Linked DNA regions of Homo sapiens: region 1 is linked to region 2. A link means that fine-mapping ties the variant in region 2 to the expression of a gene that starts in the linked region. Tissue or cell type: monocytes. Region 2 holds a variant in brackets; the other region holds the start of a gene. All regions are shown on one strand. Distances are between the middles of the regions.

What was found. PIP is the estimated chance that this variant, and not a neighbour inherited with it, causes the effect.
Region 1: it holds the start of IDH3A, and the variant in region 2 is fine-mapped to the expression of IDH3A in monocytes (Fairfax 2014, PIP 0.95).

Annotation. Positions count from the first base shown.
Region 1 is chr15:78,145,077-78,153,179 of GRCh38, forward strand. It overlaps IDH3A (isocitrate dehydrogenase (NAD(+)) 3 catalytic subunit alpha), which reads left to right and starts at 4,286. Exons shown (of 11, transcript NM_005530.3): 1 at 4,286-4,354. The coding sequence starts at 4,328. It overlaps LOC124903534 (a long non-coding RNA gene), which reads right to left and starts at 4,143. Exons shown (of 2, transcript XR_007064725.1): 1 at 4,032-4,143; 2 at 1-2,656. RefSeq lists a silencer at 4,246-4,825.
Region 2 is chr15:78,166,707-78,174,809 of GRCh38, forward strand. It overlaps IDH3A (isocitrate dehydrogenase (NAD(+)) 3 catalytic subunit alpha), which reads left to right. Exons shown (of 11, transcript NM_005530.3): 11 at 2,216-5,239. The coding sequence ends at 2,299. ACSBG1 (acyl-CoA synthetase bubblegum family member 1) reads right to left here. Exons shown (of 14, transcript NM_015162.5): 12 at 7,679-7,818; 13 at 6,887-7,133; 14 at 762-4,823. The coding sequence ends at 4,738. Among named protein-coding and RNA genes, the nearest start is that of IDH3A, 21 kb to the left of the region's middle. RefSeq lists an enhancer at 826-1,125. The variant C/T (reference allele first, on the strand shown) is at 3,470.

The DNA.
Region 1 (8,103 bases), 22 kb before region 2:
AACATTTATTTAAAAGTTTATTTGGCTGTGAATTGATTATTCAGGTCCTTTTCCCGTTTTGTTTTGTTTTTTTTTTTCCCGAGACGGAGTCTTACTCAGTCACCCAGGCTGGAGTGCAGTGGTGTGATCTCGCCTCACTGCAACTTCCACCTCCCAGGTTCAAGTGATTCTCCTGCCTCAGCCTCCCCAGTAGCTGGGACTACAGGTGTGCACCACCATGCCTCCCTAAGTTTTGTATTTTTAGTAGAGAGGGGGTTTTACTATGTTAACCAGGCTGGTCTTGACCTCCTGACCTTGTGATCTGCCCGCCTCGGCCTCCAAAAGTGCTGGGATTACAGGAATGAGCCACCATGCCCGGCCTATGTTTTTTGTTTTGTTTTGTTTGAGACAGAGTCTTACTCTGTCGCCCAGGCTGGAGTGCAGTGGCACGATCTCGGCTCACTGCAACCTCGGCCTCCCAGGTTCAAGCAGTTCTCTGCCTCAGCCTCCTTTGTAGCTGGGATTACAGGTACCCGCCACCACGCCCAGCTAATTTTTTGTATTTTTAGTAGAGACAGGCTTTCACCATCTTGGCCAGGCTGGTCTTGAACTCCGGACCTCGTGATCCACCCACCTCTGCCTCCCAAAGTGCTGGGATTACAGGCGTGAGCCACCGCGCCCAGTCCCCTTTTCCCATTTATTTACTAAAGTCCTAATACCTTCTTTACCAATTTGTTGGATCTTTTCCTAACTTAGAGATAGGGATGAACCCTTTGCCAATCATATCTTTAATGAAAATAATATTTTAAATAAAGTAGGAAAACTGTTGAAATGAATTTCTTTTGTAACAAAAAATAAACATTTGGTATGTGAATAATGTATATTCTGTTTTGCTGATTTATTCACTTAAAAATTGCTATCTTGATTTTATTATTTATTTATTTGACACAGAGTCTCGCTCTGTCACCCAGGTTGGAGTGCAGTGGTGCGATCTTGGATCACTGCAATCTCCGCCTCCCAGGTTCAAGTGATTCTCCTGCCTCAGCGTCCTGAGTAGCTGGGACTACAGATGCACACCACCACCCCTGGCTAATTTTTGTTACTTTTAGGAGAGATGGGGTTTCACCATATTGGCCAGGCTGGTCTCAAACTCCTGACCTCAGGCGATCCACCCACCTCTGCCTCCCAAAGTGCTGCGATTACAGGAGTGAGCCACCGCACCTGGCCTCTTGATTTTAAAATCTTTTTTTTTTTCCTTAGAGTGAAGCACACCTGGATTGGATAGTGCTTGTTATTACAGATAAGGGTGCACTTTCTAGATTCTTCTCCTGAGTGGCAAAGTTTTCCCACCGTCTTGTCCAAACATACTTTGCTGATGGTATCTCTGGGCACTACACAGTGCAAGGGACAAGGAAAAAGGGCTTTTCCAGAGGAGAGTGACCTGCATCTTGGAGGAACTCTAGAACATGTTCGAGGAATGGTGACTGGGGCTTCTGGAGCCAAGGGCTGACTCAGGGAACAGATCTCAGCTCAAGGTGAGGTCATTTCTGTTTCCTGCATGTCCCTCCAGCTGCTGACATTTTACCTCTTCAAGGACTGATTCAAATGCCATCTCCATTGTGCAATCTTCCTTGATCACCCCCCAACTTCCATCTGAGACTTCTGAGTTTCTCCCTCACTAGATCTGGAGGGTAGGAGTGGGTCTTGTTCATTTTTTGTTCTCACAGTGCACTTGCTAGAGAATGGCTTGGGAAGCCTTTGTAGGATTGGACTGGCCCTCAGCGAAAGTTCAGCAGTTAGGAGAACTGCCTTAGTACTTAGGAAGCTTCCTAGTGTGAATGCCAGCATCATCACTTACTAGCTGTACTTCAGTTTTCTCATAGGGTTGTTGTGAAGATTAAATGAAGACTGGACAAAGTCAGTCAATGTTTATTTCACAATCACTGAGCAGCAAGTATTCCTTGTGTACCAGTCTCTGTTCCAGAAACAACGTCATAAGAGATCATCAAGATTATCTCTGGACTTAAGGCATATCTTCTCTCTATCTCTTTTGAGACAGAGTCTCGCTCTGTCACCCAGACTGGAGTGCAGTGGCATGATCTCGGCTCACTGCAACCTCTGCCTCGTGGGTTCAAGCGATTCTGATGCCTCAGTCTCCTGAGTCACTGGGATTATAGGCATGTGCCAACACGCCCAACTAATTTTTGTATTTTTAGTAGAGACAGGGTTTTGCCATGTTGGCCAGGCTGGTCTCCAACTCCTGACTTCAAGTGATCCACCTGCGTCGGCCACCCAAAGTGTTGGGATTACAGGCGTGAGTCACCACGCCTGGCCCAAAGCTTATCTTCTCAATGGCACACAGCAGAAGAGAATGTGATGTTTCCCAGGAGAGGTGGGAGCCAAGTGCTAGAGGGCTCTGAGTAAGGAGAGGGGGACACATTCGTGGGTCTTGGGGGCTTTTACAACTTTTACTACTTCCCAACATGTAAGCTGAGTCTTGACAAGGAGCTAGAATTTCAGCCAGTAGAAGTGGGGCAAGAGGGCATTGAGGCTGAGGGAATGGCACGACCATAGGCACGGAGAGGTAAAATATGGGAAGCATTTGGGGGCTGGCCAGCAGTCCTAGTTGGCAGGCGCTCCAGGTCTTTGGGGCTGGAAGGAGTGGTGGGAAATCAGGCTGAAAAAAGACAGTGGTGTGAGAGGAGAGTGCAAGGGAGAGCCAGGAGGTTTCAGAGCCGGGGCGAGCCCTGGTCAGAGCTGTGCCTGAAGGGGAGGGCAGGTTGGCAGGTGAAGAGGCTGTTGTAAGAGCCTGGGCCTGAGGTGGTCTGGCCCGAAGGAGGGCAGGGGTGACATTGGGGATGGAGGAACTGTGGGAGAACACTTCAGGATGGGACTGCCAGGGCCTGATGAGGGGAAGGGGCCCAATGGAAAGGGGTTGATAAAAGCCCTCCTTCCTGACAAGGCCACAGACTTAGCTGCAGTTTATTATTTAGGTCATAAAAGCTCTTGGGATCACTTCTCTACTGCACTCATCACCTCTCTGGGTGGGTAGGCAGCTCCTCTCTGGATAGAACTCTTCCCAGGGTAGGGTAGCAGAGACCTGGTTTAAACACCTGACCTCCCCTGGCACCCAGCTAGAGGCCTGGCCATCAGCAGGAACTCAGGAGTTTGTGATGGACAGGGAGAGGACAAGGGGAAAGGTGAGTATGGATGTTATTTCTTCAGAGAAGCATTCCCTGACCTCCAGGTTAGGTTTGAATCAGGTTGCCTGATTTTGCCTTGCCATAGCTCCTTGCTCTTTTGCTTCTTGGCGCAACAGTTTTAATGACATGTGTGTGACACTTGATTGAAGCCTGTCTTTCCTACTGGACACTAAGCCCCAGCACTTAAAACAGTGCCTGGTGTCTAGTTGACCCTCAGAAATATTTGTTGAGCTAAATAGACAGATTAGTAGTTGCCTGGGATTGAGGACAGGAGCGGGATTGACTATAAACGGACACAAGGAACATTTTCATATGCTCAAAAACTGGATTGTGGTGATGGTTGTGCAACTGTTTACATTTACTAAAAATCATCAAACTGTACACTTACAGTGAGTAAATGTTACTATATATACATTATACCTCAATAAAGCTGGTAAAAAATAAAATTCGGCCAGTCGCAGTGGCTCACTTTGTGAGCCTGGGGCAAGCAGATCGCTTGAACTCTGGAGTTCCAGACCAGCCTGAGCAACATAGCGAGGCCCCATCTCTACGGAGAAAAAAAAAAAAAAAAAAAAAGAAAAAGAAAAGAAAAAACAAAGTTGGGCTGGGCTTAGTAATTACTTGATCCCAGGAGGTCGAGGCTTTGTAGTGAACCTGTTCGCGCTACTGCACTCCAGCCTGGGCGACAGAGTGAGACCCGGTCTCAAAAAAAAAAAAAAAATCAAAATTTGTGGAATAAGAAAATTATGTGTCTTTCTCCACGGGATTGTAAATTCTATGAGGAGCGCTATATCCCCAAGATCCTAGAACATTAATCAGCACCTAGTAGGTGTGGAACAAACGTCTTACCTTAACAGCGAGTCAATGAACCAGGGAGGGGAGGAAGAAGCTTTCCCGGAGATGCCGGCCCCTCAGTTTCCGGGTTCGCCTGGCGCTCAGCCAGGCCAGTCACAGAGAGACGAGCCCGGCGATTCGCCAGCGGAATGTCCAGGGGCGGGGCAGCGAGCGAGCGCGAAGCAATCCTGAGGCGGTCTAGGGGGCGGGGCGTTCAGGGGGCGTGGCCGTGCAGGGGCGGGCTCCGAGCGTGGGGTGGGCGCTTGCGCACTGCCGCTGCGGCTGTTGCTGCGGAGCCAGGAGGGGAAGCGATGGCTGGGCCCGCGTGGATCTCTAAGGTGAGCGCTGGCAGGCCGGCGTGTGGCAGGCAGGCAGGCCGCGAGGGCTGGCAGGAGAGCCGGTCGCGTGCCGGGTGTGGGCGGGCGCGTGGGCCAGACAGGGAGGCGGTGGCTGCCCGCGGGGACAGCTTGGGAGCCGGTCCTGGTCGCCCGTGCCCCGCGCTCCGTGGCCGGCTCGCAGTGTATGGGCCGCCCCGGGCCGGGTCAGCAGCGCAGAGGCGGGGACGGCGTCAAGGTCAAGGCGGGGGGGCGCCGGCCCTGCTCCTGCCGAGACCCGGCTGCCGTCACCCGCATCCGCCCAGGCCAGAGCCCAGGCTTCGCGCCGAGCCCGGGAAGGTCACGGGAGCCTCTGTCCCGGCTCCGCCATCCGGGCCGCTTCCCCGGCTGCGGCCCTGCTGCGGGACTGATCCCCTCAGCACTGCCCACACCTCTCATCCGCTGTCTGCGCGGCCCTTGGCCGGGGAACCGCAGGTGCCACGGGCACTGGCGTTGAGCTTGGGAGGTTTTCCCAGGTGAGAGAATCCGGGGGCCCTTTTCCCTATCAGATTGTTTTCCCTTTGGCGCTCTTCCCAGTCAGACCTCTAGTGCTCTTGTAGCTATTTCCCCTTCATAGGATAGGGCATCTTACACCTCGGAATTACCGTCTGAACCTTCGGAGAGAGAGACCAGCAGAGCCTTCCTTTTACCTTTCATTGGTGGGAATCCTGCAATCTGGAGCGCTTTAGCTCTCCTTGACAGCTCAGATGCCAGAGCTGGAAAGGGTTTCAGATCATCTATGCAGTTCCGTAGCTTCTCAGTGGAACTAACCTGTGCCTGAAGAAGAATTTGCTCAAGGTCACACAGGAGGTCGGTGTCAGAGCAGGGAGAGGAACCTAGGTGTCTTGGTTCCCATTTCCCAAGGTCACATAGCAAATGATGGTACAGGCCATCAGGCCTCAAGTCTCCTGTTGCTATGAAAGGGTGGTCCCCTAGAAATCTATAAACAATTTAACGTTTTTCTGTAAGTTTGATACTACTTTTCTCCCATTTTTTCGGTTTAAAGAGAGGTCCAGAGATGCACTGTTATTTAAGGAAAAGATCTCTGTACTGGAATTTAGGAGTCTCAGATTTAAATCCTAGCAATGCCACTGATTGGCTGTGTGACCCTAAGCAAATTACTAAACATCTCTAAGCCTTAATATGCCCATCTGTGAATATCTATACTTACATCACAGAATTGTTTGAGTATTAAATAAAATAATGTATGTGAAAGCACTTGGTATGTACAGAAGGAAAACAAAAATCTGAAGCTTTCTTATCAATATGTTTATCTGTCTCCAACAGACAGTGGTTTTCATGGGCATCATTAACTGGTTTTTTTGTTCAATAACTAGATTCTACTTTGTCACCCTCTTCAGACCCAGATTTGCTTGTGATGATAACTCTTATGTCACATTTGCTCCTAAAAGTAAAGCAACTTCTGTGTCACTGTGAAAACTGAACTCAGTCCTTTAATCTCTGAACTTACATTTAACACCCAATTCATCTTTGGTAGGTACATTTGCCTTCACAGTGAGGCACTAAAGCAACACTTGATAATGATTGTGCTGGTAAATCTGTTTTGCCTTTAGTGTGATCTGCATGAAAAAACCCTCATAGTAGGTATTCAGAAAGTGTTGGGTTGTGGAGTCAGAAGATGAGGTTCTCTGACATGCACTCCCTGTGTGACCTTTGGCAGAGTCATTTGACTTCTGGGCCAGCTTCTCACTTTAGGGATTGGAGCAGAAGGTGGCTCAGAGGCTGACCCCAGGATGGTGGAGGTGCTGAGCTGGATGCCGGTTTCAATCAGGACAGTTCCTCTGTTGAGTTTCCATTTCAGGTTGTGGCCAGGCATGGTGGCTCATGCCTGTAATTCTAGCACTTTGGGAGGCCAAAGTGGGCGGATCACTTGAGGTCGGGAGTTCAAGACCAGCCTGGCCAACATGGCGAAACCCCATCTCTACTAAAAATACAAAAATTTGCTGGGCGTGGTGGCGCACGCCTGTAATCCCAGCTACTCGGGAGGCTGAGGCAGGAGAGTCACTTGAACCCAGGAGGTGGAGGCTGCGGTGAGAGGAGATCATGCTCCTACCTGGGTAACAGCAAGACTCTGTCTCAAAAAAAAAAAAGATTTTTTTTTTAAAACCCATCTCAGAACCCATGTACAACACTATTTACATGTTTTTAAGTTAAAAAGGAAATGAGTTGTGGATTAAGATGGCCCACGACCTGAAGTCCAAAGTTCAGGGTTTTGGTCCAGGCTTCATGAACCTGGCCTCAGTTTCCTCATCTGAAAAGTGCCAATAATGCCTATCTCTACAGGTTTTATATAAATAAAATGATGTGAGATATATATATATATATGCATATGAGTATTCTATAAAGTAGAAGTCCTGCCATCTCAGCCTTCCATGAAGCTGGGACTACTGGTGTGTGCCACCATACCTGGCTAACATTTAAAATTTTTTTTGTAGAGGTAGGGTCTCACTCTGTTGTCTAGGCTGATTGGTCAGGTCTTCTGTCACAGAGACATAAGCTAGTTTTGTGTGAATGTCTTTTCCCTCTTTTTTGGGCTGGGAGAGGAGAAAGGACTCATGTCAATTTTTTTTTTTTTTTTTTTTTTTTTTGAGACAGAGTTTTGCTCCTGTTGCCCAGGCTGGAGTGGAATGGTGAGATCTTGGCTCACTGCAACCTCCACCTCCTGGGTTCAAGCGATTCTCCTGCCTGAGCCTCCCAAGTAGCTGGGATTACAGGCACCCACCATCACACCCAGCTGATTTTTGTATTTTTATTAGAGACAGGGTTTCACCATGTTGGCCAGGCTGGTCTTGAACCCTGACCTCAGGTGATCCACCGGCCTCAGCCTCCCAAAGTGCTGGGATTACAAGCGTGAGGCACTGCGCCCGGCCTTTTTTTTTTTTTTTTTTTTGAGATGGAGTTTTGCTCTTGTCACCCAGGCTAGAGTGCAATGGCGCGATCTTGGCTCACCGCAACCTCTGCCTCCTGGGTTCAAGTGATTCTCCTCCCTCAGCCTCCTGAATAGCTGGGATTACAGGCATGTGCCACCACGCCTGGCTAATTTTGTATTTTTAGTAGAGACAGGGTTTCTCCATGTTAGTCAGGCTGGTCTTGAACTCCTGACCTCAGGTGATTTGCCTGCCTCAGCCTCCCAAAGTGCTGGGATTACAGGCGTGAGCCACCGCATCCGGCCTCATGTCACTTTTATGCTCTGCTTGTCACGAAGTAACCTTTAAATGGTGCTTTGGAAAATTTTATTTTACTTAAAGTTCTGGGTCATTGTGATGACTTAGGTGCAGTACTGCTTTATTCTAAGATCATGCAAGAGAGATGACAAACATGGAAAAGACTGGTCCTTAAAGAAGATCATTGCAAGTATTAAGGCTACTTGTTGGCTTGGAAACTCTTCAGATAGAGATGTGACTGAGGCTGGACTCAGTTTTGTTTGATTGTTGTTTTGTTTTTTTTTAAATTATTGAATACCTTCTATGAGCCAGGGACTGTTCTAGACACTAGATACAACAGTGAACAAAACACAAATCCTTACACTCCTGGGTTTACATTGCTGCCCCCAGCATATGCAGGTAGGATGGGTTTACATTTTAAAATCAGTTGTTTGAGTCGGGTCTTTTTCATTCTTTCTTTCTTTTTTTCTTTTTTTTGTCCATTACCTAGGCTGGAGTGCAGTGGCATAATCATAGCTCACAGAAGCC
Region 2 (8,103 bases):
CTGCAACCTGCACCTCCCGGGTTCAAGCAGTTCTCCTGCCTCAGCCTCCCTAGTAGCTGGGATTACAGGCGTGTGCCACCACACCCAGCTAATTTTTGTATTTTTAGTAGAGATGGGGTTTCACCATGCTGGCCAGGTTGGTCTCGAACTCCTGAGCTCAAGTGATCCTCCCGCCCCAGCCTCCCAAAGTGCTGGGATTACAGGCATGAGCCACCACACCCGGCCAAGTTCATTGATTTTTATAGACAACTTTTTACTCTTCACAACAAACGTCTGTTGAGTGTACCTTATAAGGTGTGAAGAGTAAAATGATGAATAGGGTAAGATGCTGAGCCTCAAGGAGCTGGGAATCTAGTGGCAGATACAGATGCAGATGTACCTCTAATACAATAGTCTTATATGTTACACTGTGTGCATCTATAATACAAAAGCAATACAGAAGTTTTATAAAAGTAATAACTAATATTAATTGAATACTTATGCAACTTTTAAGTTCTTTATATATCATCTCAGCAAAGTTTTTCTATAACTCTTTGAAGTAGATGCTATAATTCCATTTTATAGATGAGGAAACTGAGGTACAGAGAGAATAAATAATATGTCCAAGGTTTTACAGCTCCTAAATGACCCAAGTTGGTATTAACACGCAGTCTGGGCCTTACCCAACAAGCTCCACCGCCTCGGTAAGCAATTGTGGCCTGTGGAAGAAGTGTCGCGGGCTATTCCGAAGTTAGAGGAAATAATGCACTTGAAGACTCATCCCTAATTTGAGGTCCTTTTTAACAAAAATTGTGAAAAATATGCATAACATAAAATTTGCCATTTTAGCCGTATTTAGGTATACAGTTCAATAATGTTAAGTACATTCACATTGTAATGTAACCATCACCATCAGTCATCTCCAGACCAGTTTCATTTTCTCAAACTGAGACTCTGCACCCGTTAAACAGTAACTTTCCCTTCCCCCTCCCATCCTCTGACACCTGCCATTCTGCTTCCTGTCTCTATGAATTTGACTACTCTAGGTACCTCATGTAAGTGGAATCATACAGTATTTGTCCTTTGAGTCTGGCTTATTTCACTTAGCGTAATATCTTCAAAGTTGGTCCCTTCTTTTAAAAAAATTCTGTAATTTGAAATTATATCGTGTGGCCAAAATACAAGAAATTCAGGCTTGTTTTTAACAGCCTGATAGTCACATTGGAGGTCATATGATTTTCTTATTCTTTAAAGTTATATTTGGGAAGTTATAATCTACAGCCCAGTAGAGAGGTGCCTGAATTACATAGTGGGCCCTTTTATTGTGTAGGATGGAAAGATAAAGAGAATTAAATATATTGGGGTCTGTATGCAGGAAAGAAAGGATAAGCTGGTAGAACAGATCAGTTGTATGGGAGGCTTTCTTTCCTAAAGAGGGAGGTTTAAGAGTTAATGATTTAGGCAGGTGTGGTGGTGCATGCCTGTAGTTGCAGCTATAGGCTGAGGCAGGAGGATCACCTTAGCCTCTGAGTTCAAGACCAGCCTGGGCCACATAGTGAGACCCCGTCTCTTAAAAAAAAAAAAAAGAGTTAATGATTTAAATATTTCTTTCGTATTTGTGTCCCAGCCTCCAAAAATAGATCAGATACAAAAATTAGTTGGGTATGGTGGCATGCACTTGTAATTCCAGCTATTCAGGACGCTGAGGCAGGAGAATCGCTTGAACCCAGGAGGCAGAGGTTGTGGTGAGCTGGGATCGTGCCACTGCACTCCAGCCTGGGCAACAGAGTGAGACTCCATCTAAAAAAAAAATAATAATAAAAACAAAAATAGATCAAAATATGTCTCAGGTCTATTCCTGAGACATATTTCCCAAGGATTTTTATGAAACTTCTTATTTAGATTCGCTTTTATTTAAATATCCATGACCAACTAATCTGGGTTAGGGTCTATTGTGTGAACAAAGGGAAAATTTTGGTAAAGCTCCCTGCCTCCCTTTGCATCAAGAGCACCTTATTCTTTGCAGAGTGCTGTTGTATACACTATGAGATTGGATCCCGATCCTCCTGGGCTGGGTAGATGGTGGTGGAGTGGTTCCTCACTTTGAAATGAGGAACTAAATGAAAGAGCAGCCGAGTAACTTGCCCAGGTGGCATCTCACTGAGGGCTTTAAAATCTCCTTGGTTTAGTTTAGTTTGCGGATACATCTTTTATTTTTGCTTTTTCCTTTTCTCAGAGCTTGACAAAAGATTTGGGAGGCAATGCAAAATGCTCAGACTTCACAGAGGAAATCTGTCGCCGAGTAAAAGATTTAGATTAACACTTCTACAACTGGCATTTACATCAGTCACTCTAAATGGACACCACATGAACCTCTGTTTAGAATACCTACGTATGTATGCATTGGTTTGCTTGTTTCTTGACAGTACATTTTTAGATCTGGCCTTTTCTTAACAAAATCTGTGCAAAAGATGCAGGTGGATGTCCCTAGGTCTGTTTTCAAAGAACTTTTTCCAAGTGCTTGTTTTATTTATTAAGTGTCTACCTGGTAAATGTTTTTTTTGTAAACTCTGAGTGGACTGTATCATTTGCTATTCTAAACCATTTTACACTTAAGTTAAAATAGTTTCTCTTCAGCTGTAAATAACAGGATACAGAATTAACAAGAGAAAATGTCTAACTTTTTAAGAAAAACCTTATTTTCTTCGGTTTTTGAAAAACATAATGGAAATAAAACAGGATATTGACATAATAGCACAAAATGACACTCTTCTAAAACTAAATGGGCACAAGAGAATTTTCCTGGGAAAGTTCACATCAAAAAGAGTGAATGTGGTATATTTCTAAATGATATGGAAAATAGAGACAGATTTGTCCTTTACAGAAATTACTGAGTGTGAATAAAAACTTCAGATCCAAGAAATATATAATGAGAGATATAATTTTTGTTAATAAGACAAAGGTAATATATTGGATACAAAGACACAAATGTATTGTGTGTTCAATTATTTTGTTGTCTTGAGATTTAATATTCTTTCCAAGAGCTTTTAATGAAGCAGAGAGCTAGTACTTCATTTTCACTGGATACATTTTCAGCATCATGAGTTGTCACAGCCTCTGAGCCCCTGATCTGAAGCCAGAAGGGCTGAGTGTATTGTAAACTTATTCTTGCATGTTGCTGTCTGGGAATGGACCACACTACAGCAGGTAGTTCTGGGGGCGATACTGCCGAAAGGCCCGAACACATGTATTTTGGCTGCAATTGAGGAACTTGGGATGCTATTAATTTTGTATTTCAGCAACTGCCCCTTCTCCTATCCCAAAGCACCAATTACTGCCCTCTGCCTCAGCAGTACCAGTATAAGATGACATTCCAAAGACTGGAGGCAACTCAGCCTGAGTTAATTCACAAAATTATGCCATGCTGGGGCTTGAGCTTGAGCTTGGGCTTAGGCTTGGGCTCAGCTTTTGACCCTCAGGCATCTCCTTT[C/T]CCTTCCTGTCTTCCTCTCCCTTCTCCTCTGCTGCAGCATGATTTTCTTAATCTTCAGACACTCACTATTTTCATGAACAGTTACCCTCTGTCCCCACAACCAAAGACAACTCATGGCCTCCTTTGGCCCTTGTGTAACATTGCAAACCTGTGGCTTTGCAAAATGTACCCAGGTCACAAGGGGATTTTTTTTTTTTTAGCAATGATATCCCTGTCTGGGTCACTTTTTAAGCTTGTAACCGCCCCCCCAGACTTATAATCTTAAATGTATTTTCCTTTGTTTAAGCTGCTGCTTCCTCTGTTTCATTGGATTGTGCCAGTTATCAGTGGCTCTTGGGTTCAAAGTAATAAAGAATTCCAAAACTGAGATGTTTGCTTTCTCTACCTGTTTCCTGTTCAGATGCCTTCGGTCATTTTGGCTCAGCTTGCTACTGAGAATGGCTGCTTCCCGTATTCAGAATGGAAGTGGGGTGGTCTGGTGGCGACAGGCTAACGTAGAGCTGGCTGCTTTTATGAGAATGCGCCACTTGACCCCATCCTGCACCTTTGTTTATTCCAGGGCACTAATGGTCACTCGCATGCCCGCTGTGCACAGTCCTGTGAGTTAAATGCCCACTACTCTCTGCACTGGTCCCACCTGCTCAATTGACAAAAAAAATCAGGTCCTTGTTGACAGTTCTGTTAAAAGGTTTAATATTCAAATTATACATTAAATAGAATCAAACAGGCAGCAGCAGTTTTATTAAGCATCAAGTCAGTTGGCATGTGGGTGGCGGAGTGCCTGGTAATGGAATAATAGGGTCGGCGATGCCCGCCAAGATTCCAGAGTAAGTCAGGTCGCTAGGTGAGTTGTGACTGATTGCTTTTCCTGCAGCGCACGTGAGCAGTATCAGCCATCTCTCTCCTACCCGCTCCACAGCCTACTGCTGGCTGTCCTGTATGTGAGCTAGCAGCTTTTTAATCTACCTGGAACTAAGGCCAAAAATTATCAGCCCTTTCGTTCTGGAAGGAGAGCTGATCTCATTTGTCACCTGAACAAAAAGCAATACTTAAACTGAATTAAAACTACCCACACGTGAAGCTTCTTGGAATTGTCAGCTATTGTTGGCGTAAGACCTGGTAAATGTAGAGCCAGTGCTGTGCCCTGACCTGGAGATCTAACAGACTTGGCAGAAATGCCTGTGCCCAGACTGAAGAGACCTGGGGCTCAGGAAGAGGCTCGGAACGCCTGCCCTCTATTCTATAGAAACTGCAGGCATAGGCCCTGATTACATTTTTTGCTCTTGGTAAAAGGAGTCAATGATACCTTTGTACTTCTCCAAAACTGTGAGCCGTTTCAGTTTCATCGTGGGACCTAAAAGGGAAATGAGAAGAAATGAGTGAGGCCCAGGCTCTGAGAACTCTGAGAATGTGTGTGGTAAAGACTCACACTCAGTCCTATATATAACTCAGGAATTAAGCCAGATAATCAGGACCGTCAGTAGCCAGCCTCCAAGACAGTGATCGCTCCTGGTATTCATATGGCTTGTGTGTAGTCTCCTGTGTTATACCACTGGTTGTGGCCAGTGGAGTATAGATGAAGGGTTGGTATGTCACCTCTGAGAATAGGTTATAAAAGATCAGTTTCTTTTATACACATAGGAAAGTAGTGTAAGCTACATCTGCCTTTTCCTTGACCTGTACCCAGTTTTGACCCTCAGTCCATTTTCTCTGAAATGGATTTATTTGTTCCATCTCTTGAATGAATAAATTGTTGAAGCAATTAAAAAATAGACTAGGTTTCTGTCTTGGGCTTTCTCTTGGACCATTCTTCCTGGGCAAGCCGGCTGCCATGTTGTGAGGATACACAGCCCATGAGAGGCCCACTGGCCACACACGGATGTTTCTGGCCAGCAGACAGCAAGGAGCTGAGGCCTGCCGACAGCCACGTAAGTGAGCGCGGAGGTGAGCCTCAGCTGCAAGTGACTGCACCCAGCTCACATTGACTGTAATCCCGTGAGACCCAAGCCAGAACCACTCAGCTAAGCTGTTCCTGGATTCTTGACCCATAGAAATGTGGATAATAAATGTTTACTGCTTTAGGCTGCTACATTTTTGGGGTCATTTGTTACACAGCAATGTATTAGATAGCTAGTACACATCATCTCTGCATTTTTGTGAACGTTTATACAACGTTGGACATTATGCTTTGATGGTTGTGATGGGGGTAGGGGAAGCCCAGGTTATGGGGAGCCTCTGCCATGGTCTTTATGAGAGGTCTTCCCCTAATTACTTTTCTTAACCTTGATTTATCCCCCAAAAGCAAGTTTGAAAGAGCTCTGATTTGAGGTCCTGGGTAGCTTAAAGTGCCTAACTCACTCTTGACTGTGTAACTGGAAACTTTCTGTGTTAAAGTCATTATATTAACTGCTTAGTGAAGACATCTTCTGTCTCTCTGACCTTGCGTTCAATATGCTGGCAGCAGACAGCCAGATAAGCTCAAGGTCTCTGATTGCAGCTCAGCTTTGCTGTAGACAATTGCATCTGGGTTCAGCCGTGATGGATTTGAGGGAATCACACTGGCATAACCATTTCTACCTCTCCTGTTCTATGAACATCCCATGAACATCTCTTGGCTACAGCCAAGAGTGACTTCAGCTGAGGCTGCACCAGAGCCCTCTCCTGGTTCTGTGGGCAGTGGTCCGGAACAGCCTTATCCCTTTGTCACACAAGCTGACTTTCCGGAAGATCACAGTACTCTCACCCCTAGAACCACGTGACTCCAGGCTGAACACTAGCAGGGCCTTGGTGTTGGCCTGGTAGTTCCATTGTGATTTTCGGAGAAAACAGTCCCATAGTCAAGGCCAAGTTAAATGTCATGTTCAGATTAGAAAGTTCTAGCACATATCAGCTGGGCGCAGTGGCTCACGCCTGTAATCCCAGCACTTTGGGAGGCCGAGGCGGGCGGATCACCTGAGGTCGGGAGTTCGAGACCAGCCTGACCAACATGGAGAAACCATGTCTCTACTAAAAATACAAAATTAGCCGGGCATGGTGGCCCATGCCTGTAATCCCAGCTACTCGGGAGGCTGAGGCAGGAGAATCACTTGAACCCGCGAGGTGCAGGTTGCAGTGAGCCAAGGTCGTGCCATTGCTCTCTAGCCTGGGTGACACAGCGAGACTCCATCTCAAAAAAAAAAAAAAAAAAAAAAAAAGGAAGTTCTAGCACATATCTTATACATTCAACAGACTCCACATAACCACAAGCCCATGCATGGAGCCATCAATGTCCTCTAACAGGAAGTAGATGGGTGTCACCCAGATTCCTGCCATGACCTTCTCTTTGCCGTGGCTGCTTCCTAACAGGCACCTCCTAGGCACTGCCATGGCCTCTGCCTTCCCACACAGCCCTTGCAATGGTGAAAAGGAAAAACCTACCCAACTCTCCACCCGAAATGGAGAAGTCTCTCTCGAGAATGGCCCACTTCTGGATGTGGTAGGGCCGGGCCGCCGCGTTCATGTTGACCCTCCGGATCCCCTCTTCGATGGCCTGGTACACGGCCTCATCCTTCTTCTCTATGATCTCGGACACTGTGGTGGCTCTGCTGCCCACCCTCTGGCAGAACTCCATAGCTTGTTCAGTCAGATTATCAGTCTGGTCAGAGGTGTCTGGGTCCAGAGTGCACTGAAAAGCCAGAGATCAGATGAGGACCAAGCCTTACCCAACAAGACGTAAGCCCTGGTCCTGGAGGAGGTCTTACTGCTGTCGGCAAGGGTGTGAATCATGTGAGCTCTGTTTCAAAGAGACGGTTCTAGAATGAGTAGCTGCTACTGTGTTGAGCCTCGTGTTATTGTGGAAGGAGCAGTGATCTGAGAATTAGAAGAGCTCGGTCAGTGACGTCATTGTCTGTAAAGCAGGGACGGTAACTCCTGCCTGTCTACCACCCTGGGGTCCAAGTACCTGCAGAGAGCAATGAGGGAGGGCAGCAGCACTTTGTAGACGGGAAAGTGCCAGTAACATGTAAAGGATCATCACGGTGGCTTATGTGGGACAGAAGGAATTTCCACGTGCCACAGTTTTTCCTACAGTGCAGGCAGCACGGACTTGAGTCATTCCAGAATGAAGCCATGAGATCTGGATGTGCCCTGTGCTGAATGTGGCTTCTGCCAGCCAGACCCACAGACCCCCTCACTGGCTGCTCCTTCTGAGCTGGAGCCCCCCAGACACACCTTCAAGGTGAGCAGCATGGACAGGAACTTCCTCTGGTCCCCAATGAGCATGGCGTTGCTGATGATGGGCAGCTCCATCTTCACGGCCTCCTCGATGGGCACAGGGGGCACATTCTCCCCACCAGCTGTGATGATTAATTCTGGGGAGGCAAGGCCAGGCCCCCGGCACAGAATGTAGTCCAGGTGCCCCAGCTGAACCACAACCCAAGCCTCAACCACAACCCGGAAGCCTCAGCACAGCTGGAGATGCCCCCTTTCTGGGAGCCAAGAAGCAGTGGCAGGCCCTCCAAAGCAACTCACACCTGCTTGGGGGCTGGTGGCAGCACCCCGACGACAAATGCTCACCCAAGTTTCCCTCTCCTCGGCTTGTCATCCACGACTCAGCCTGCTCAGACATCTCATCCATGGCCCCCTTCTGCCAGTCC